Regions from separate parts of the Homo sapiens genome. Here all the other regions are linked to region 3. Evidence: fine-mapped expression QTL. A gene starts in region 3. Each other region holds a variant in brackets. All regions are shown on one strand. Distances are from middle to middle. Region 1 holds the start of MIR556 (microRNA 556). Region 2 holds the start of LOC124904445 (a long non-coding RNA gene). Region 3 holds the start of C1orf226 (chromosome 1 open reading frame 226).

Evidence for each region. PIP is the estimated chance that this variant, and not a neighbour inherited with it, causes the effect.
Region 1: its variant is the best candidate, but not a certain one, in a credible set for the expression of C1orf226 in monocytes (TOPMed, PIP 0.80).
Region 2: its variant is the best candidate, but not a certain one, in a credible set for the expression of C1orf226 in whole blood (TOPMed, PIP 0.80).

What each region holds. Positions count from the first base shown.
Region 1 is chr1:162,339,774-162,347,833 of GRCh38, reverse strand. NOS1AP (nitric oxide synthase 1 adaptor protein) reads right to left here. Exons shown (of 10, transcript NM_014697.3): 6 at 3,858-3,999. It overlaps MIR556 (microRNA 556), which reads right to left and starts at 5,288; the gene lies at 5,194-5,288. The variant G/A (reference allele first, on the strand shown) is at 3,889.
Region 2 is chr1:162,317,596-162,325,655 of GRCh38, reverse strand. The region is part of intron 4 of NOS1AP (nitric oxide synthase 1 adaptor protein); the gene reads right to left. It overlaps LOC124904445 (a long non-coding RNA gene), which reads left to right and starts at 6,168. Exons shown (of 2, transcript XR_007066701.1): 1 at 6,168-6,450. RefSeq lists an enhancer at 5,277-5,846. The variant CT/T (reference allele first, on the strand shown) is at 3,734.
Region 3 is chr1:162,377,301-162,385,360 of GRCh38, reverse strand. It overlaps C1orf226 (chromosome 1 open reading frame 226), which reads right to left and starts at 3,633. Exons shown (of 2, transcript NM_001085375.2): 1 at 3,143-3,633; 2 at 1-2,179. The coding sequence starts at 3,459. The coding sequence ends at 1,678. RefSeq lists a silencer at 2,688-2,982.

The sequences.
Region 1 (8,060 bases), 38 kb after region 3:
AAGTCCATGATACTTACTATATGTTCAGGGCAGGAAGGAGCTCAGGGAACATGGGAGGAGTGAGGGAAGTAGTACTGAAAGAAAAGTATAGGAAGTGATCCTTATGGAATCCCCACTGAGTCCCCAGGGAATCGTGAATCACATCAAACCCACTCCACCCAGCAGACCACTGCAGGGGCCAGAAGTGCAAGGAGAGAGCAGCTCCCACTGCAAAAGGGAAATAAGATCTAGCCCTTGGTGTTGTTTACATAAAATGCTATCCAGGTGGTTCTCTCCACCTGGCCAGACCATATAACTCTGACCTCTGTGGCCAGCAGCTGAGTGACAGGTTCTGATTAAGTACTTGGAGATTAGATTAAATTCCTCCGATGGTTGTTCTGTGATAATAACAGTGTTCAAACATTCAACCTCTGGGCATCCTCTCTGCGTCCAACCGCTTTCACTCCAGGAATAGGTGTCTTCACCAGAGAAAATATCCTTTACTTTCTGGTTAAACTTTCTTTGTACATGTGTATACTGGCTGCCAATGTGACTGTGGGTTTAAAAGCTTCTGAGAGTTAGGATGTGGCTCTCTGCCAATCAGGCCACCAACGGGGCATGGGCATGACCAAAGAAGAGTTAACAATGTAAGACTTCAATCTTCTCCAGCTAGCAGTTCTTACGGCAAATCCTCCAATTCAGAAATGAGCAGATTGGTTTCTGTTCTTTGAGCCAAGCAACCAGCTAGAGGTCTGATGTGTCCTCCATATTAGTTATAGGAAACTGTCACCATTACGCTCTAAAAATTGACCAGCAGAGATATATAAAATATTCGCCAAAGTCTATCTATCTCTCTGTTTTATCTCTAAGCCCTAGATCACAGAGATGGAAAAATGTTAAGGTTTACATCACATTAGTACTACGGCCTGCTAAAACTGAGACTGGCCAAGGGTACATGACCAAATGCAAGGCTCCGTCTGTGTGATAATATTTTATGAGTCAAGATCACTGAGATGCTGTCATTAGTAATAGAATGTCACTACTTAATAGAAATGAGTAAGCCAAAAGAGAAGTAAAGTAATTCCCTCTAGTCACATAGAAACTGAGCACTAGGATGAAAATAATGTCAGGTTTTCAAGATTTATAACTAATATATATCCAAAGTATAAAGGCCATAAAAGTACAGTGAAAAGTCAATCTTCCTGCCACCTCAGCCACCCAGTTCCTTTTCCCAGGATGAACCACAGTTACCAGTTTCTTGTGTACTATTCTGGAGATATTCCATGCATAAGAAATGTGTGTGTGTGCATGCATGTGTATACATATATACCTACATATACACACACATTTAAATCTATACATTTTTAATACAATTGGTAGTACCTCATACCCACAATTCTATTTTTTTCCTTTATTCACAATTCTAAACTTTGACTTTTTTAAGTAAGCAAAATATCTTGAAGATGGCTTTAAATCAGTTCATAGAGAACTAACTTATTCTTCTTAATAGTTGTGCAGTATTCCATTATTTGTACCATATTGTATTGTAATTTATTTAAAAGTTCCCTCTTGCTGTTTCTGATCCTTTGGTTCTATAACAAATTCTTTGCTATGTAACCTTATATAGAAATCATTTCACACCTTTATGGGTTTACCTTTAGGATTCATTCTTAGAAGGGAATTTGAAGGAAATTTGGGGGTCAAAAGGCATATGAATTTTCAAATTCAATAAAGATTTCCACATTTTTCTCCATAGGGATTCCCTCTCTATCATACACTAAATTTGCAAACACATCTGGGTTTGTATATGAGTTTCCATTCTGATCCGCTCAGGCACTTATTTGAACATGAGTTTTACCTATTATAAGCACAGTTTTACTGGAAAGCCACTCCTCCTCTGCTATCATTCATCTTTTCCAGGATTTTTTCTATTCTTGTTTTTTTAAATTTTCACATATTTACTTAAAAATAATAGCATACATGTATGTGGTGCATACTCTGTGCCAAGCACCAGGCTCAGCATTTTAAAAGTATCAGTTTATCTAATTACGACAATAATTCTGAAGTGCACAGTACTACTATTTCTGTTTTTCAGAAGAGTAAACTAAAGCACAGAGAGGTTATGGAACTTGCCCAAGATCACACAGGCAGTGACTGGTGCAGCTACAATGCAAAGCAAAGGTCTTCTCTCTGAGCCACTTTGCAATGCTGCCATTTGCAGACTAGCATTTCTTTTGTTGTTTTTTAACTTTTTGAGTGGGATGCTTAATTCATTTGACTTTCATGATTTGTCATCTGTTAACGTAAATAACTAAACCTTTGAATTTTCCTCTGAGTGCTGCTTTAGCTATATCCCATGAGTTTTGAATACTGTAGCTTACTGTGGTACCTCTTTTGCTGTTAGAAATCATCATTCTCAGTAAACTATCGCAAGAACAAAAAACCAAACACCGCATATTCTCACTCATAGGTGGGAATTGAACAATGAGATCACATGGACACAGGAAGGGGAACATCACACTCTGGGGACTGTTGTGGGGTGGGGGGAGGGGGGAGGGATAGCTTTGGGAGATATACCTAATGCTAGATGATGAGTTAGTGGGTGCAGCGCACCAGCACGGCACATGTATACATATGTAACTAACCTGCACAATGTGCACATGTACCCTAAAACTTAAAGTATAATAATAAAAGAAAAAAAGAAAAGAAATCTGTATTGTCATGTTAAATTTATAGATAAACAAAGAGAGAATTAACATTTTTATGATGTTGAGCTTTCCCATCCAAGAATATGGCATGCCTTTCCATTTGTTTAAGATTTTTTCGTAGGTAACAAACACATTTTTATTGTGATTATTCATAAGTATCTTTTTTTTTAATTGTTATTTTAATGGATTTTTTTCCTCCACTATGACTTCTAACCAGCTGTTCTTGGAATATATGAAAATCACAAATATAGCTGTATGTGTTATTGAACTTTGACTTTCTAGCTGAATTCTCTTATTATTTCTAATAGTTCTCAGTTTATTTTCTTGGGTTTCCCATGTTAAAAATTAACATAAACAATATTTTTTTTATCTGCTCTTTTTCTTGCCCATACTTCATTTTTTCACATTTATTGTCTCCTTCCTGACTTTTTTTTTTTTGAGGCAGCCTAGCTCTGTAGCCCAAGCTGGAGTGCGGTGGCACAATCTTGGCTCACTGCAACTTCCGCCTCCTGAGTTGAAGCAATTCTCCTGCCTCAGCCTTCCAAGTAGCTGGGACTATAGGCGTGTACCACCACGCCTGGCTAATTTTTGTATTTTTAGTAGAAAATACAGGCAACATGGCAGGGATTTGCCATGTTGGCCAGGCTAGTCTTGAACTCCTGGGCTCAAGTGATCTGCTCATCTCAGCCTCCCAAAGTGCTAGGATTAACAGACTTGAGACACTGCGCCCGGCCTCCTTCCTGACTTTTAATGAGGCTTGAAAGTTGGGGATATTAAAATACTATCCATATTGAGGGCTTATAGAACTACAGAAGTTAGAAATTTAATAAAACAAACTAGGTAATTATAAATTTATGTTCTTTCTAATTTGTTTTATGGGGGTGCTTTTTTACTGAAAACTTCTTTGAAGTCAGATTTGGTAGTATAGCAGCTCTACCTCTCCCTGATATCCAGTTTAAATACTTCCTCATTTAATAATTTAAACATCTTTAATTTCTGTTATAAAAGTAATACGTGTTCCTTAAAGAGAATCTAGAATTTAGAGAGAAACGGAAAAAATAAAATGTTTCTTAAAATGAGTTCACAGCCTGGGGGTCAGGGCAGTGATCCACCAGAGCCTACTGTGTGCACTGCCTTCCCACCCACATCCACAGAAGCCGCAGTGCCTACCTGGGTCTCCTGAGCTGTTGCTGTTCCTCTC[G/A]CTCTCTCCATCTTCCTGGCCATCTGCATTCTGCTGCGTGTGCTGCAGGCTCAGCTTGTGGCAGACCTCAAAGGCCTGCCCCACCGTCCGAACGATTCTCATAGCTTGGCTCTGGGAAGGAGAAAGGAGAAGAACAGGATGGGTGAGGATGCGCAAGGGGCATGTGGATAGAAACTCATGAAGCAGCCAAAGAAAGAGACAGAAAAATCTAAAGTTGTTCAGATATGCACATACAAATGAGTGCAAAGACATTTCCCCTTTCTGAAATACTCCAGAAAACAGAAACTGTCACCACAGTGCTGAAACAATCAGTCAACTGAAAGGACAGATAGCAAATATGCCAGTTATGGACTTAGCCCCAATTCTTCCCTCCCATGTGTAACAGAAGTAGTCAATATGCTTCAGAATCTTTTGCCAGCCATGATAAAATGTTCAATGGGTCCATCAAACTAAGAGGAACTCGGCTATCATTTTTTTCTTTTTTGAATGCTGCTGCAAATGTTGAGTTTCCCTGGAGCTCCTGCAGACCAAGGGCAGTGGTAACATGAGGCTTGGAAGCCATGGCCTAAACAGCAGAAACCAATGGAAGCTCAGCACCCAGCTCCTCTGGAACACCACTAGTTGGCAGCCAACTAAATCTAAGGTGACACTTTCCCAGACTTACTCCAAAGACCTCACGTTCTTGGGTCTATTCTGTGGCTCCTTCCTTTCTTTTGTTTTGGTATTTAATCTCTTGCTTTAAGAGCCCAAGAAGAGAACTTGACCCTAGTTCCCAGTATTCCACCATTTAACTAGGAGAAGAGAGAGAGGACAAAGAAGCCTGCTCCTATGTAGAGTCTTAGGCCACCCATGCAGGCTGTGAGGAAGAGCCACATGCAGGGGTTCCAGGGCATGGCCTCAAAGGTGGATAACTGATTATGGTTTGAAGATGTCAGCTTTTGCTTTCTTTCAAGGACAGAAATGAGTGATGTGGTTTATTTAGAGTTTCAGAGCTCAGGCTGGGAAGGGCTCAGCACACTGCTTCTCTTACCTCAGTGGGCCTCAAGCATCCCACCACCATGGGCTACAATTTAATCTAATTGTGATTGTCACCCTATACTCAAGTCTAACATTCATCGTGTTTTGGATGATCTGACTTCAGGTCAGCCATGGCCACCTGTTGACACCATATAGTCCATCAATCACATCCACCTCCCACCCACCCCAGGTAATGGCAGCAATCAAGTAGGGCTTTTCATCAGCATGAGGTAGCTGGTATTACATTACCTAACTGATATCCAGTGTTTTGATAAGTCTAGAAGGCCTTGTTGAAGGTAGTAATAAAAAAGATGAGCTAATGGTAATATGAAATGTATAAATGAAGCTCATATTACAATGAGCTCATCTTTCTTATTACTATCTTTGTGAACTCCTAGGGACCTTGGAACCCTGTGCATGGAACAACTGCTGTAGTCCATTCTCTGCTGGGTATAACTTCTAGAATTGCTTCTCCTCAAGCCTGGAGTCATTTCTATGTTCCTTCTGCTTATTTCAGGCCAGAGCATCCATATTAATGTGAAAGGCATCTTGACTAATTATCATCTACATGTCAATTTGAGATCTCAGTCAACTCTACTGCTCCCTATATTCTTCAGTTCAAATCTACTCCTAGAAGTAATTGTTTTACAGCTCTAACCTTTCTTAGCCATTAGACTAACTCCAGAGATATTCTCCATTGGTCTCTCACCTGAAATATCCTGACACTTCTGGGAGATAAGAACCTTAAGCGAAGCAGGAGGAGATGGGTAACTTCTGTGGGGTCCACCATCACCCAGTGGCGAATCAGAACCTCTGTTTTCTACATCTACCCTTAATTTCCTCCTGTGTCCACAGGGCAGGCTTAGGCCCCTTCTCATACCATAGGCTTGCAGTGTGTAAGACATGACTGTTCTATCTGCACAGGAAGTTGAGAAGCAGTAGGCATCAGTCCTAAGCAAGAAGCCCCTACACTTCCCACTCCCAAAACACACAAAAAGGCGTGATTTAGAAGACACAGTCCCTAACAAATGTGGGCTAGGAACACTCCAGCTTTCTACATTTCCTTTAGCCACCAAGCTGTGCTGTGCTTAGGAGGCTGTGCCAGGAAGCTTAACTCTCAGGTGAAAAGGGAGAAGTAAAGGCTCCTACATCCGAAACTGTTATTCCCCTAGGCCTTGAGATTTTTTGGTTCCTATTCCTTTTATGAGAGTAAGAGCAGACTGCCTATGGTTAATCGTCTACGGCAAAGCTCGTTACTAGTTTACTAAACCTTAGGTATGACTTTATTCTGCCTACCACTGTCCTACCAGTGTCCACTATACAGAAACCTTCCTCTACTTTCTTCTCTGACTCTTGGGAATTTTGCTCCCCCAGGTATCTTTACAAAAGGTAAAAAAGGTAAATGTTTTAGGTTGTAACAATAAAATATGGTAAGTCCAAATGATATGTAGAGATTAAGTGTTTAATTCCATTACTTTCTTCTCTTACATGAATTAACCCAGATATCTCATACTGAATAAATATCTGCAAAGACTGAGTTAGTCTTTTCCCGTCGGTTTCATTCCCAGGGTACAGATTAAAATACAGTTCCCCCTTTAAAATACAGTTATATAGAAAATTCTAAATTCACTACTGAGTTTGTTCCTATAACATCTCAGGTTTTCCTAAGGAGGACGTGTTACAAATTCCATCATCTCTGTAAATCACAGATACTTCCTTTAACCAGCTTTTAAGATGATATTAAAAATTTAAAGATCCTCAAACAAATGTCCCTGATCTATGGGATTAGACAGGGGTAGGAATCGAATTTCTAAATTTATCTTTGGAAGGAATCCCTCAGATTTAAATAAGAGGATAAAGGTGGTGGGAGAATGACTTCACAGAGGACCTGTATTTCTCAGGCATCACAAGATGACAATGGATGATGGGCTATGCTCAGAACTGAGCATCTTAAGAATATAGACTCCAGCTCAAATCTCTATTCTGCCACCTTTATCAAGGACAAACATGTGCAACATACTCACATATTCAACCATCTATAAGCCCAAAGTGGCTGTAAGGAAGTAGGCTGGTTTTAATGGTTAATATTGATAACACTTCATTTTCACATTTTACTAGTATTTTTTACTAGGATCAGCAGCTGACCCTAACCTCTACCTGATTCCCCTGAAAAAGTAGGAAATGCAGACTTTAGGTTTACTGGTTCTGCCTTCCCCATGCTGGAAAGGGCATCCCATCCTTCAGCCTCCCATTTCCTTCCTATCCTCCCTCCACCCGTTGTTCTCTACGGTATTTCTGTAACTGCACTGAAAAACTGAATATATGATAGCACCTACCACAGTGCCTGGCATATAGTAAATGCTCAAGAAATGTTTTATCCTGACTATGGAATTCACTGCACCAAGAGGCAATTAAGACAGAAAAGAAAAAGCAGTGCAGGAAAGGTGGAACAATTTTTATCATAGTAGAAACATAAAGCGACTAAGGGAATCACCTCTTACTTATGTATGCTAACATCCAAAAGGCTGTGCATCAGATAGCATAGCCTCCACCATAGCAGCACAGGAAAATTCCTGAGCCAAATGGATCTTTGGTCTGAGCTAGTATGATAGTTTCTACATGTGAGGAAATTGTTGCATTAAGAGTTCTAGATCTGCATACTGAGTGGTAAACAGTTTAATAATTAAATTAATAAATTAAATGGTTTAATTTATCCTTTATTTTACTCCTTTAATGTGAAGGTTATATTTCTATTCACAGTAAAAGGACACTGTAGCATGTTTCATAAAGAGCCCTCTGCACTGGAACACATAATCAAGCTACTCTAACTGTTTCACAGAATGACTACATACATACACATAAAAGAATTGCCCTTCCTATCTACCACTCAGGGAGTCAGAAGGGGCTAAACAGCTCCTCACTGTACTCATAAATGGCTATGTGAGTTCTGATGTCCCTTGACCTTTTAGGCTCTCCTTGCTTCACCATTAAAAAGTCTACTTTTAGAGGATTCTATATGGGGACCTCGTTAGGGAGGTGATTACTTAAAGGTGGTCAGTAGAGGCAGCCTGTGCCTGGGAGGGGCTGTGTCTTCACCATCTGCTTTCTGCACAGCCATGCTGGCTCCTGCCTGCTAGGCCTACCCCACTTAGTTA
Region 2 (8,060 bases), 60 kb after region 3:
AAGACCAGATAAATGAGGCCTAACTGTGAAGGCATGGTCCTGGGAAATCCAGCATGACTCCTGGTCTCGGGAAGAAGGGTTCCCTAAGCGTCCCAGCCCATGTGATTCTGGGGGGCCCAATGTGTTATCCTTAGAGGGACTGGGGAAAATATCAGAAGGGGTGGTGGGTTGACGAGAGTCTCCAAATGCTTCACTGATAGAACACCACCAGACACTATAGGAAGAATGCACCCCTTACTCCTATCCCCAGCATGCTGCCTGCCTACTGGTGTGTCTTTTTCTCTTCTCAACCAGCCCTGCAGCATGAACACAGTTTCACACTCCTGTCGCAGCTGTTACTCATTCTTTTCCTCATCTATCTTATTTATTTTTAATTTAATCTTTATATAACATTGTCTCCCATCTTGATCACTGTTCTCTCTTATGACTGCTTTGGTCTGATTATCATTTTCCCCCCACTGTATATACAGGGCTTTTTAATCACATCAGCTGGCTTGCTTTTATTTGAAGTTATTGTAATTTCCATCTTCTTCATTCCTCATTTTAGCCATTCTCGATTTGATGACTACCTTCCTCAGGGCTATTTGGCAAAAAAGAAGGGTAATAAACTCATGAAATGGTGCCTGAAATCCCTCATGGAACTGGTCTCCTTACTTCACAGCCTGACTTCCACAGACACCTGAAGTGTGGGGCCACACTGTCAAGTCGCCCCTTGTCACCATGACTGGGATGTATATCACAGATCTGCTTCATCGCAGCACAGTCTGGAAGGAAGCCTGGGATTCCAGGGCTGGGAGAGACCTCGAGAGACAGTCAAGCTCATCACTTCAACTGCAGGCAGAGAAATGCAAATATAAGAGCTGATTCCTAAGGTTTCTTCAATGAATAAAATTATACAAATGTCTAACTTATTGTTACAAAGATCTACTGTGTGCCTAGAGTAACGAATAAGCAACCAATTGAGGTTTTAAGACCTAGCGAGAGCCAGACAAATGCATCTTTATCTTCTGAAAGTCTAGCTAAGGCACCCTCATGGCCTACATCAGCAGTTAATTTATGTTTTAATTTCACAGCTGTTAAGTTTTTTCTTATGTCCCACTAAAACCTCCCCTGCTTTACTTGAATCAACCACAAACCACCACACAGCACTTTCTAAATGCCAAGTACTGGGATAAATTAATTTCTTCTTGTTCAGTACTTGACAGGGAGGCAAAAAAAAAAAAAAAAAAAAAAAAAAAAGGCTAGTGTCCCTCACAAAACCACTACACAAAAATCCTTTCATATATTTCAAGACTTTAATTTCTCTCCAACACTCATAATTTCTCCAAAATAACCATCACCTGCTATTGGCTGTCAAAAACCAAATCTATTTACACAGGCTGCCAATTTATTTCTTCTGTGTGTCTGTGTTATCTGAGTTCATACATGTAGCTTGTTCACATTTGGGGGGCTTAAACCATCCATCCCACACTTTTCAGGACCCTCGGACTTCCTGAGGGTTGTGCTCAGAGACACAACTTCCCTCCCAGAGCCAGAAAAAAGAGAGAAAATGAACACACCACAAATATTAGGGGCACTAGTTTGACTGGTGTATGCTGGAGGAGCATCATCTAGAAAATTACCTCTTCCTCTTCTCTTTTTTCGTTTATCCTCTTGCTTTCAAGCCAGCAAATACCTTCCTTCAAGTGTTATATGCAGAGAGGCATTAGGCAAAATCTTCCCAGTGCAAAATAATCATCAACAAAGGTTCGCACCCTTCCTTGTCCACTCCCCAGTATACACTGAGATGCCTGTAATTTTGTGGAATAGAAGACCTGACAGAACAGAGCCAAAGGCTCAGTCGAGGTTGCAGCTCGTCTGCTTTCTCAAAACAAGTTAATACTCTGAGCCTTAGTTTTCTTAACTGCAAAATGGGATAAGAAGAGGTTCACAGGACTGTTACAAGAATCAAATGAAATAACTTACATATAGGGTCTGCCGCATAGTAGTTGCTCAAAAAAATCTTTACTAAATTGAAGTGATCAAAGAAGAATATTTGCTAATCTATTGTGTGTTTACCATCTGTCAGGTACTGCTTAAGCACTTTACAGGCAAAAACTCATCTAATCCTCACAACAACTGTATGAAGTGGATACAGTTATTATCTCCATTTTACAGATGAAGAAACAGAGAGGTAACCCCTGTGCATTTTCTTAAGGTCACACAGCCAGTAGTATCTGTATTAATTTCTTAGGGCTGCTGTAACAATTATTACAAGTCGGATAGCTTAAAACAACAGAAATTTCATTTCTCACAGTTCAGGAGGCCAGAAGTCAAAAATCAAGGCTGATTCCTTCTAGAGGCTCTCAGGGAGAATCTATTCCACATCTCTCCTAGCTTCTGGCTGCTGCCAACAATCCTTGGCATTCTTGGGTTTGCAGCAGCGTCACTCTAGTCTGCTCCCGCTGCCTTCCCACGGCATTCTGCCCTGTGTCTCCTCTGTCTCTGTGTCCAAATTTCCCTCTTCTTGTAAGGACCCTGGTCATTGGATTTAGGGTCCACCCTAATCTAATATGACCTCACCTTAATTACATCTGCAAACTCCCTATATTCAAATAACATCCACATTCACAGGTACCGGGGTGAGGAACATATCCTAACATAGCTTTCTAAGGGACATATTTCAACTCACTATAGTATCTGCATTAGAATTGGAACCCTAGCAATCTTCACCAAGTTCTGAAAACTGCTGCACCATCTGCCTGATTAATCATCAGATATCATTTGAATATTGAATGTCATTCATTACCCGTATTACTATTGTTTTCTCTATACCTGGGCTAGAAATTAGTCCCATGTTACATTTATGCCACCTGGAAAGCCTGGATTTTTTTATTCCTCTTATGTTTCCAAGTCCTGGATGTCTTCATAGATGTCTCTATGGTCACCAACAAATTCATTCTCATGTTGGTAAGATTTTCAGGGGACACGTGGGTAAGAGGTGCTGGATTTCTTTATCATCCCTGACTGATTGTCCACTTTCCATCCATGTTTCTTCAAATAAACCAATCCAGGGATATGATACACATCATAAGCACATCTTGTTTTTCCAAGGCAGTTGAGTTCCCACTTGAGCGTCTGAGGATTCCCACCATAACTCCCTCTGTACCTGACTCTAACTCCATACCTCTCATGCCACCTGCTCAGCATGTGAGGAGTCCCATGTGCCATGACGGGAAATGAAGAAAGAGTATCCACCTCCTTCCCCAAGCTTCCCAGGGGTGGGAGCATGCCTGGCTGGCAGGTCCAGATACTTTTCTTTTCTAATATTTTTATTTTTCCAGTTGCTCTGACCTGCCTACCTCATGCTGTATCTGAGGAAGAGGAAGTCAGAATCAGAACTCACCTGAAGGCACTTCCTCCCAGGACTTGAAGATAAGATGACAAGCCACTGCTGGTGGCTTGTGTGTACTCCAGGCATCAGCATTTCTAATTCTCACCTGCCCCACCCTCAGGTCAATGTCCAGGCCATTCTGATTTGGCCTGGGACAACTCACTCTCAATCACAATCTAGTGTCTTTTTCTTTTTTGTGTGTTTTTTAGAAATTATTTTATTATTTTAGATGCAGGGGGTTACATTTGTAGGTTTGTTACACGGATATATTGCGCAAGGCTGGAGTTTGGGCTTCTTTTGAACCCGTCACCCAAACAGTGCACGCAGCACCAACGGGAACTTTTTCAGTCCTTGTCCCCC[CT/T]TCTCCCTCTTCCCTTTTGGAGTCCCCAGTGTCTGTTGTTTCCATCTTTATGGCCATGTGTATCCATTGTTTAGCTCCCATTCGTAAGTAGGAACATGCAGTCTTTGGTTTTCTGTTTCTGTTTTAATTCACTCAGGATAATGGCCTGCAGCTGCATCCATGTTGCTTTTATATATATATATATATATATTTTTTTTTTTTTAATTATACTTTAAGTTCTAGGGTACATGTGCACAACGTGCAGGTTTGTTACATATGTATACATGTGCCATGTTGGTGTGCTGCACCCATGAACTCGTCATTTACATTAGGTATATCTCCTAATGCTATCCCTCTCCCCTACCCCTACCCCACAACAGGCCCTGGTGTGTGATGTCCCCCACCCTGTGTCCAAGTGTTCTCATTGTTCAATTCCCACCTATGAGTGAGAACATGTGGTGTTTGGTTTTCTGTCCTTGCGATAGTTTGCTCAGAATGATGGTTTCCAGCTCCATCCATGTCCCTACAATGGACATGAACTCATCATTTTTTATGGCTGCATAGTATTCCATGGTGTATATGTGCCACATTTTCTTAATCCAGTCTATCATTGTTGGACATTTGGGTTGGTTCCAAGTCTTTGCTATTGTGAATAGCGCCAATGGAACAGAACAGAGCCCTCAGAAATAATACCACACATCTACAACTATCTGATCTTTGACAAACCTGACAAAAACAAGAAATGGGGAAAGGATTCCCTACTCAACAAATGGTGCTGGGAAAATTGGCTAGCCATATGTAGAAAGCTGAAACTGGATCCCTTCCTTACACCTTATACAAAAATTAATTCAAGATGGATTAAAGACTTAAATGTTAGACCCAAAACCATAAACACCCTAGGAGAAAACCTAGGCAATACCATTCAGGACACAGGCATGTTGCTGCTTTTTAAAGGACTGTGTACCTTTACTTCCAGGCCATTGGCAAACCTTAAAAAAAAGTGGGGGAGAAAAATGAACCCATTCCTATTTGACCTCGTTTTGATTTCCAATTACTTTTTTATTTTTTATTTTTATTTATTTATTTTTTTGAGATGGTGTCTCACTCTGTCACCAGGCTGGAATGCAGTGGTGCAATCTCGGCTCACTACAACCTCCACCTCCCTGGTTCAAGCGATTCTCCTGCCTCAGCCTCCCGAGTAGCTGGGACTACAGGCGCGCGCCACCACGCTCAGCTAATTTTTCTATTTTTAGTAGAGACGGGGTTTCACCATGTTGGCCAGGATGGTCTCGATCTCTTGACCTTGTGATCCTCCCGCCTCGGCCTCCCAAAGTGCTGGGATTACAGGCGTGAGCCACCGCTCCCGGCTCCAATTACTTTTTAAAAGTCTTGTATCTTTCTTTTGGCAATGTGGGGAGGGGGTGGTTGGAAGGCAGCATGTAAGGACCCTTCCTCTTCTCTTTTCTCAAGTTTATCCTTTTGCTTTCAAGCAAACGAATACTTTCCTTCAAGTGTTATATGCAGAGAGGCATTAGGCAAAATCTTCCCAGTGCAAAATAATCATCAACAAAGGTTTGTACACTTGCTTGTCCACTCCTTGTCCACAAAGGGTGGAGAAATGTGAGCAGAAGGCTGTGAAGGAGGCAAGTCCTTGCCTGAGAATTCCTGTTATTTTCATCTGCTGTATGCCAGAAGCTCTTTTCTCATTGTCTCCCCACCACCGAAAAGCAGGTGTCGGGGTGGTCCAGCATGACCTCTCTTCTAAGATACGCACATCTTACTCCGTACCCCGCCCCCCTTGGCCCCATATTGGCTTCTCCAAGATACAGAGCTGAGTCTGCTTCAGAGACTGCCCTGAGGAGCTCAGGGGGTACAGACAGGGTGTGGCAAGTGCGGACAGAGGAATGGAGCCAGTGAAACGCGGAGGAGGATGCAGCCAGCTGCCTGTGGGAACTGGGAAGGCACACAGGGAGCTGCTGCCTGAGCTGTGACTCGAAGACAACGTGGGAGGTGGCAGGATTGTGGGGTGGGGAATGTGTCAGTCAGGGTCCTGGCAGGAAACAGAGTATGTGAGTAGGCTGAAGAGAGTTTAATACAGGACTGTTCACAAAGGTGAGGGCAGTGCAGTGTCCCTGGGAGCCCTCAGCACCCCAAGTCCAGAGAGGCAGGGCAGGGAGCAGTTTCCAGAGCCAAGAGAGGAAGAGCTGTGTGCCATCTGGCAGGAGCTCTCAGGACAGGTCTACACAGGCCAGCCTCCCTGGGCACTGAGGACAGTGGGGAGGGCTGCTGAGCAGATCTGGGACAATGGAAATCTATCCATCACCGAGACAGAAGAGCAGGGAGAGCCCTTGCAATGGAAACTGCATGTGGAAAGGCATGAGGTCATGAGGTAGCACAGTTTGCCTGGGTACAGGGATTGCAGGGCATACAGAAGGACTGGTGGGAGATGGGGACAGAAGGAGGTCAGGGCCAATTGTGGAGAGCCCAGCTACAGAGCTCAGACTTCACCTTGTGGGCTCAGGGCAAGGATGGGAGTCTAAGCAGGGGGATCACATGGCTGGTAGTCATGGTGGTGTGGAGGATGGATTGGAGGAGGGCAGGAGCAGAAGGAAGGCCACCAAGAGCCTACTGCAATACAGAATGCTTAGGGGAATCAACAGAATCTGGACCTGGGGCTTGCTGTCAGAAGAACCGGACTCAAATCCCCATTCTGCTGCTTACATTTGTGAGCTACTGGGTGAGTCTTTCAATGCTCAAGTTTTAGTTTTCTCATCTACAAACAGGGGAGCTGTTGTGAGAATTACAGTTTGGGAAATAAGTGCAGGGCACCTGGGCTCAGGGCCCTGAATGACACACCTGGAGCGATGCACAGCACAGTCTATGCAGCCAGACAAACCAACCCTGAGTCCAGGCAAGAAACACTGGAGGCCTAACAAAGGCAGGGGCAGCCACCATGGGGAGAGCAGGTGGACACAAGAATCATTTCTCTGGGTGTGATAATGAGAGGGAAGGATATGATTCTGAGCTGTGTAACTTGGCAGATGGACTAAACATTAATGGGGTCAAGGGCCACAGAAGGAAAAAAGAACTAAGGAACATGGAAGGAGGAGGAGTGGTGTGGCTCTGGACAGGTCAGATTTGAGAAGGCAAAAGCCAGATGGAATTGTCTAAGAGGCAATTGGAAATAAGGGATGGAGGGGATAGAGTGTGGGGGCAGAGGAGCATAGACTGGGATTTAGAGGGTGGTTGAAGCCATAGGAAATACGACATCCCCTGAGGATCAAGAAGAAGAAGAAGAAAGGGGGCTCATTGAGAGAATCCCACTAACAGTACCCATTTAAATGGAGGGCGTAATAGGAGGAGTCAGAAAAAAAAATACTGAGCAGAAAAAGACCAAGAGATCTGAGGAGGAACAAGAGAAAACAATCGTGGAAGCTGAGGGAGCAGAGAGTCTCCAGAAGGGTGGAAAGACCCACAGCATTAAGTGCTTCACAGAGACTGAATAAGATGCAGACAGAAAGCGAGCCAGGGATTCTGCAACTAAGACATCCCTGGTGGCCTTAGCAAGAGCAGTCTCAGTAGAGTAGCTCAGGAAGCCCAATTAAAATGAGCTGAAAAGTGAATGGGAGTTTTGGAAATATAGATAGCAAATGCAGTTTCTCCAAAGAGTCTGGCAGTGAAACGGCAAGACAGGATGGTGGGTTTGAGGGTCATCTTTTCTTTTTAGGATGGCAAAACCTAAGCCTATTTATAGGCTAGAAAATAAGGGACAAAACAGAAATAGCCTCAAGATCTAGGGGAATGTAGGGAAAATGATGGCTCAAGACAGAGACAGCAGAAGGCAGAGTGCAAGAAGAGGAGCTCGCCTGGGGTCCGAGACAGCACCAACTATGAACCTGCCACTAAGGTGGGGGCCAGTCCTACCCCTGGCTTGTATCCCTCTCCCTTTCTTGGGCAGTATTTTGGTGGCCCTTATGAAGTAGCTAAGCCTTTCCCTGCGAGAGAGCTAATGCCGTTTTGATGTGGAAGTAGGAGTGGGGCTGGTTAAGGCAAGAGGTCAGTTTAATGTTTAGTAAAGTGTCCTGATAAAAAGCAAGGGCTGTTGTAACTGCCCCAGACCTGCATTTCACCCATCTGTTACTGACTTCCCTTTCTCATAGGAAGGAACCAGAAACGTGACATGGATCAAAAGGACAGTACGTGAAATCAAAATCATTTTGCTGTTATTTTCTTAGAGAGGAGATTCATATGAATTCCTCCTGGCTCTCAGGACCTGAGGGATGGGGCTCATGTAGATATACGAGGGCTGGAAGGGTGGGGAGGCCTAGCCAATACTACATGCTCTCT
Region 3 (8,060 bases):
CCCACATCCTAGCAATCCTGCTGAGGCTCCTAGTTGTGTAGGAGTTAGCATGGCCATTTTATATGGCAGTGGTGGTGGGAAGGGGAGCAGAGGCTTGGAGATGAGAAGAGCTGGGAAGCAAGCCCTGGGTATCCCAGAGCTTATGGGTGGGAAGCCAAACAATGAATAGAACAGGGGAGGCCACAGGAATCCCAGGAGGAGGATGCCGCACCGCCTGCCCTGGCCGGACGTGCCATTCCCAGCCTTCTCCCAGGGAACCGGCCACCTTGTTCAAGAAAAAGAACGTTCTCCTCTTGCTGCAAAGAGCCCCAGAATTAGGATCACCCCCTTACAGGATCTGCTGGTCACAGGAAGACAGCACAATAGGCCCCTGGTGGGAGACCTAAAAGTGGGTTGCAGGAACCAGTTAAGGCTGGATGAACCTGGTCAGTCCCTTACATGGATCCTGAAGCAGGAAAAAGCCCACCAGCATCAGCATAAAAGAAAGGCAGGCAAGGGCAGGGCGGGGCCGCTCCAGTGAGGTCCAGAGCTGCAGGAGGCCCAGGCAACTTCAGCACAAGCACAAAGCACTTCCACTTAATTAAAACTGGTTTCCCCCCACAGTTCTTCTCACATTCCAATCTTGTACATGCTTCATTCTGGCTCTCACAGCAGGCCCAGGCCCTGAAACGGCATTATTTTAGGCTGCAAGGTGGCCCCTGAAAAGCTGTTCTGATCCCCAGTGGTCGCTCTTCTCTGTCCCATCCTCACTCCCTTCTCCCTGCTTCTGCTCTGGGTTTTTAGCACCAGCTCTGAATGCCAAGACCACCCCCAAGTTCCTGGGCCCTCCCCACAAAACCAAATCAGAGTGTGCTAGGCCGCATCTGCTGGGGCCTGGCTCTCCCTGTCTTCACACACTCAGCAAGAGAAGCCTGATCTTTCCTTCCGTGCAGAATGCCCACATTTTGTGTTCGACATCTGACCAGATGGGAGAAACCTTGGGAACCCTGGGTGGCAGCGTTCAAACCCTGGGTGAACTCTCAAGGTCTCAGGCCTGGTAAGCATCTCCTCTGGCCTCCACCCCAGGGGCAGAGCAAACATGGCAACCAGGGGCCTGCACTGTCCTGGGACCAAGAGGAGCTATGGCTGGGCTGTGGTCAGGGTGTGTGGCTTTCTAGGCCATGGCCTGTCATCAAGCCAAACACATCATTCCTCATCCAGCCTTCCTCCCGCTGAGGCCAGGGGCATCGGACCCATCAAGGAGGAGAGAGAAGGGACAGGGGTGTGGGAGGGAGAACAGCAGGGGAGGAGGCGCATGTAGGGGACAGGCAAAAAGAATTCCTGTAAGATCCATTGTCCTGAGCTGGTGGCCCTGCAATTCACTGAGAAGACAGGACAAGCTCAAGAGTGGAAGAGCTCTAATGTCCAAGGGCTGCAGCCCACTCAGAGGAGGTTACAGAAAATTAGGCTCAAAACGGCATCAAGTCCTTCAGCCATTCTGCGGATAGACTCTTTAACTAGAACTACTCAAGGACTTCCAGTCCTGCAAAATCCCATGATGGACGACTGGCTCTCTGCTGGTGCCTCATACAAGGAAGACAAAGGGCACAGCGGAGTTGAGGCCAGGGCCAGTGTGCGCAGTGGAGGAGAAAGCAGCAGGAAGACAAGGGCAGAGCTCAGCAGGAAAGAGCAGAGGCTCTATTCAAAGGACAGCAGGTCTGGGTGAGGGCCCTCATTGTCGAGGCTGGAGGTCCGTGCCTGAGGAGGGGGGCTGCCATCCTCCCAGGACTCAGCCAGGCTGATGGGGCTCAAGCTGAGTTTGAAGCCATTCCTCTCGATAAGGCTGGGGGAGGAGGCCCTTCTGCACTCAGTCATCTTTAGCTTGGATTCGTCCTGGCTATCCTTGTGGATTAGGTCAGGTACTGACAGGGAAACCTCTCCATTGGGCAGAACTTTGCCTCTCTCTTCTCTTTCCATGGTGGCCTCTGGCTGTGAAGCGTCTGCTGGGACGTCAGGCTGGGCAGTGGGAGCGGAGTCCTGGGCCTGCCCAGGTGATGGCTCTGTCCCATACTCCAGACTGCTGAGGACAGGCTGTGATGAAATCAGCATGTCCTGGGTGGTCTTCAGGGCCCGAGGGGTTCGCTTTCTGGTTATGGGAGGTGGAGGATCCAGCCGAGGAAATGTTTCTTGCAGGACTGACCTGTAAGGTTAATGACAATAAACACACATGCCTTAAGGACAGCAAGACACCAATCCACCTGCCATCTTGCTTCTCCAACTCCAACTGCACTTTCAACCCACCCCACCCAATAACTGCTCTACTCCTTGGGCTCTGGTTCTTGGTTTGGCACATAGGCCTTAGCAATTTCAGCATAACAGTAGCTTTTGGCCTGGTCCATGCTTACTCAGTGTTCAGAGCAGCACAAAGTGCTGGCCTCTAGAAGACAGGATAGAGACCGCTGGTGAAGCTTGTCAAATCAGAACCCAGGCAGTAAGTCCTGTGTTTAAAACAGGGAATGTGAGGGCATTCCCACCTCAGATGCACAGGTGTTTAAAACAAGGCCTGGAAAGAGCCTGTTGGTAGGAGGGGGAAGAACAGGAGGGCTGCTACAGGGGGCTTCTCCCACTGTGCCCTAGTGGGCTGTGACAGGTGCAGGCTTCTCCACAAGCAACAGTCTACGGCAGCGCTTCTCAGCTATGGCCGGGCATCAGAATCTACCTGGGGACCTTCTGGGCAATAGCTGGGTTCAAATCCAGCTCTGCCAAGTACTATCTTTGTGACCTCAAGCTATTTACTTTGTCTGTCTGAACGTGAGTTATCTGCAGGATGGAAATATCATCTACCTCCCAGGGCTGCTGGGAGGGTTAGACAAAATGATGCAACTATAGCCTGCAGCACAGAGCTGAGGACATGGTGTGCACTCAGCAACCTTCAGCAGCACAGAGCCGAGGACATGGTGGGCACTCAGCAACCTTCAGCTGTGGCTGCAGAAGGTGAAGCCAGCTCCCGAGAACGTGGCCTGATCCTGCAGCTTTTCAGTACAGGACAATCTCACACCCCTCCCTTGGGGCTGTTCTCCTGTGCAGACACTGCAGTTTGTCCCTGTACCTTTTCAAGTGGGTCCACAGAGGGGCATGGATGTTGGGCGGGTGAGGGGCTCACCTTTCATCCTCTAGCCAAGCCTCTGGAGCCGCGTCAGTCCCACTGGCCAGCTGTGCTCCTGCAGTCTTGTTGATCTCTGTCACACCCACACTGCCCAGGCTGGAGGGCTCCTTTCTCCTCAGGAAGTCATTCACTTTGGCCCCCATGGCTTTGCCCAGGTTCTTGAGGTGCTGGCTGCTGCCCACCCAGAGTCCTGGCCCCCCAGGCTCACCAGAGCCCAGAGGGGCAGAGCCGGGGGCCACGGGCTTGGACAAGTGGGGGAAGGAGCGGCTGGCCTGGAGCTTTGGAGTGAGGGCTGTGTTCAAATTCTCAAACATGCCGTGGTCAACTATGAACAAAGAGGCGACAGAGAGGCATGATGAGGAAAGGGGAGCGGTACCTGTGCTCTATCATTCAGTTTTTCCTTATCCCACACCCAAAACCTGTAACTTCCAAGGCTTTGGAAATATTCAAGAAAGAGCCAGCAAAGACACTCTTGAACTTTCCAGTGTAGTTTTCTTGATGGGACAGGAACTAGAAATTCTAGCTCTGCCCCACCCAAGTTAATCAGTGACTAATGCTAGCCATAAAAAAATAAAGTTGTTCCTGTAAACCTGCCTCCTTGACTCATGGGCTTGGCCCCTTTACCTTGGAGTCACCACGCCCTTTGGAGTAAAGAAAAAATGAGGATGAAGCAATGAAACATGACATTTTTACATCACCGTAAGCACGTGCTGAGCTCTCAGTGGGTTGGAAGCTGGTGGAGGGATGGCATGGATGAGGCTTGGTGTTAGAAGCTCCCCACTGAAGGCCATGAGTATAGCACATATTCTCCACAAAAAATGGGGCAGCAGCTCCTCAGGTCTACAGAGGTGGGCCTTGAGCGAGTGGGCCAGCTCTTGCAGAGGTGCTAAGTGGTGGTTCAGAATCAGTTCGTACCAAATGGATAGGAACTCGGTGCCAGTGAAGCACGAGGATCCCAATGAACATCAGCTTACTTAATCCTTACAACCACCTAGGGAGGTGGTACATGGAAGGATATCTACCTACAGATGAAGCCTGCAGGACTCCGCGTAATGCAGTGCCGTGCCTGAGGTCACACAGCTAAATACTAGCAGGGCTGGAGCTAGAACTCAGGCCTTCTAACCCACAGCTCAGGGCTCTGTCCACAACTTTGCCCTGCTATAGATCATGGAACAGCTGCCTATATATGCCTGGTACATGGTCCTTCTTGTAGGGATCCTCTTTGGCTTGAAAAATTAACTCAAAGAGCTGGGTATAAACCCATTAGGTTGTAAAGATTTGCAAGGCAGAGAGCATGCCTCATTCATCTTTGTATTTTCAACACCTAGCCTGGGTTTGGTACCTAGCTGTGCTCAATACAGATCTTGAATCGCCAAAACCCATTTTGTAGATAGAAAATTGTGGTGGCCAAGGTGGTAGCTTAAAGGTTTGTTATTGAAATGACTGGAGCTCCAGGCTCTAAGCCATGCTGTCCACACACTCACACTTGGCCATCCTCTCCCTATCTGGAAATCCAGCTCAGTCATCAGGCAGCCAGACCCACTCTGAGGCCTTGGAATCTGGGTCAAGGTTTCTGTCTACACCAACTACCCCAGATATGTTGTCAGTCTGAGGAAAGGAGATCGCTCGATCATTTGATGACTAGGCTCCTTTCCTTGTGAACACCTCTGCTAAGTGTCTATTTTCACTGAGCCTCTTCTAAGAGTAACTGGGGTTAGGGTGTACTTTTTCTTCTGCTGAATTTTTGTGTAAAGCAGTTCTTTCTGCCCTGCACTGCTGTATCCCGGGCCAGTGAAAACCTTTCTTGTGGTTTCAGTGGTGCTATCCTTTCTAGGCCAACTACCTAGGTATGCCATATTCTAAGGGCCTTTGGGTGGCAGGGAGGAAAACCTGTGGGAAGTGAAGTGGAGACTACTCTCTGCGGATGAGCCCTGTGGCCTGCACCACTGCAGGGTGAGGACCTGCCAGGGAACAGCATGACAGCATCCCTGGGACACAGGGCCCAAGCTGGCTGGGCTCCAGATAGACCCACCACACCAGCAGAAGCTTCCAGCCCGCTCCACAGCAAGCAGGGTCATCAACTCCTGATGATTCTCCTAAGTGTGTATCTTGCCACATCATCCACTTTGGCACAATTTGCCTGTCAGGTCCCACATCCTTCTTATTTTCTTTAATCACGTCATCCGCAAACTAGCAAAGAAGATTTGGAAACCAAACCATTTAACTATTTCCCCCCAAACCAGAAAGTACATAGACAACAATGAAACTGTACGAAATGCCCGGGGAAGGCAAATTGCCACCACTTCCCAAATCAGACATTTCCCTGGTGGTCTCCTTATTGGTTTAAAGTGACTTTTCAGAGCAGACATACTCGTTTTTAAAAAGGCAAGCACCAAAAACACCTGTCAAGGTGATTAGTAAATTATAAGCTATTATTATTTTTAAAACACTCTTTGTAATAAACAGAACTCTGGATTATGCACCATTTTGGATTTCCTGTATTTTTTGCTCTCTACCCTTCATAACATAGTCTATAACGCACTGAATTCTTAAGTAATGTAAAGATAGCCTACCATGCACTCCCTTTACCCTTGTCTAAGTCTTTCCAGTAAATACACCTTGTCTTAAAATGGTAAGGTCCTTGAGGGCCATAGCTCCTGAAGTGTTTCTTTATCTTCTACAATGCCCAGCTTAGGGTCTTGCACGATAGTAGGCATTTAATAAGTTTGTTTAATTGAATTTGACTTTTATATGAATTCTTAAAAATTGCATGATGGACTGACATTGTAGGGAAACTGCTCACAAGTCTTTTTCCATTTATAAAAACCACTCAAAACTCCCTCTATGGGAGTGGTCTTCAGGGGCTCTTGAGGTCAGACCCGGATAACTGCCCTTCTATTCAAAGTGAAAGTGGGGCTCTGGCTGGGGGGTCCCTTTATCCCTATGTCTGAGGATGTGCAATGGGTCCCTTTCTTGATGATGACGCTAATGACCCCCACACATTATCTCTCTTGCTTCAGGACTAGAGGCTTGATGGTTCAGAAAATAATGGCAATGGAGGACAGAGAGATGACTGGACCCCAGCCAGGTGGCCCTCCCAACAGTACCCCCCAACATGCACACACCCAAGCAGAGGAGGGCATCTGGGGATGTAAGTCATCCACAAAAAAACAGGATATCTTACCTGTCCGAGAAAGGGGCTCGGAAAGCAGGTGGGAAACAAACAAAAGAAAGACACATTTTACGTAGTGACCAGTCACTTTGAGAGTGTCACCTCCTGCCTGGGCCACCAGCACCAGCATACCTCGGGGGGACACAGCACACAAGACAGGGGACCTGCTACGAGGAGTGGTGTGCACCCTGGAACCGCCAGGCTCCCACAAACTTTTCAGTGACTAAACCAAAACCGGGTCGCATTTTAAAAACTCTACACAGGCACTGAGAGATTCTGCCTCCCATATTTCCCCCCAGTATTTTAAGCTCCCTTTACTTTAAGTCTGAGGTTGCAGTGGGAGAGTCTGAAGTTGGCAGTCGGAGAAATGTGATGGGTCAAGACAGAATGCAATTCCAAGTCCTCGGGGTCCTGTGTGCATCACTCACAAGTATGCTACTGTCCACATGTCAGTCACTGGGTTTTAGCCAGGAAGATGTTCATCCATTCCAGTTTAGAGTCTAAACTAATAACATGGGTAAACCAAGTAGCAGAGAGATTTGCCCAATATCACACAGGTAGCTCATGGCGGAGCAGGGTTAGAAGTCACATAAGCTGATGCCCAGACTCATGAGCTTTCTCTACACCATAATGGACCAAATGAAATTGCTGATACCCCCCAAACTGCCAAAGTATGTGGCTTCAACTTACTTTCCAATACATGCTAATGTTCCAAACCAGGCTATCTGGGAGGAACACGAGGGGAATCATGTTCTCCCATTGTCCTTCGAATGTTTCAGTACCGTGAATAAATACACACAGGAAGACAACTCTGGGCTCTCACGTGCAGAAGCTAACTCACACCTCACTCACACATGCTCGACAGCACTGCAAAACAAGCCCATCACTATTTCCAGAGCGGCCATAGCTCCCCATGCAGCATAAACATACCTGCCATCTAGATCTGCAGCCCTGCTCTGTATCTAGTTGACATGTTGTGATAATCTAGAAAGGGGTGTCTTCAGCTTATCTTCCAAGTGTCACAATCATCTTTCACCTTATTCCACACCTCGTTAGTGCACAAGGTTGTTATAGGACAAGCGAAACGAAGAGGCAACCTTGCCTCTCTGGAGTCCCAGAGTCTCCCCATCAAACTGACTTAAGCAATGAGCAAAATAGTATTGAGTAAGCCACCCATTTGTGCTTTAGTCACTTGCTAAAAAGAGCACCAACCACTGAAAACAATATTTGGCCCCTATTCTTAGGAAATACACATTGAAGTACTTAGGTATAAAAGGACATAGTGTTTATAACTTACCTTCAAATAGTTCACAGAAAAAATTAAGTATATACACATACACATGGGGCAGGGGGCAGGAGGAAGGGGACGGATACAGCAAATGGGGTAAAATGTTAATAGGAAAATCTGGATACAGGGCATAAGGGTGTTCTTTGTATTGATTTTATTTTTTGCAGCTTTTAAGATGGAGTCTCGCTCTGTCACCCAGGCTGCAGTGCAGTGGCGCTATCTCAGCTCACTGCAGCCTCTGTCTCCCAGGTTCAAGCGACTCTCCTGCTTCAGCCTCCCAAGTAGCTGGGATTACAGGCACCCACCACCACGCATGGCTAAATTTTATATTTTGAATAGAGATGGGGTTTCACCATGTTTGTCTAGCTGGTCTTGAACTCCTGACCTCAAATGATCCACCCGCCTTGGCCTCCCAAAGTGCTGGGATTATAGGCCTGAGCCACTGCACCCAGCCT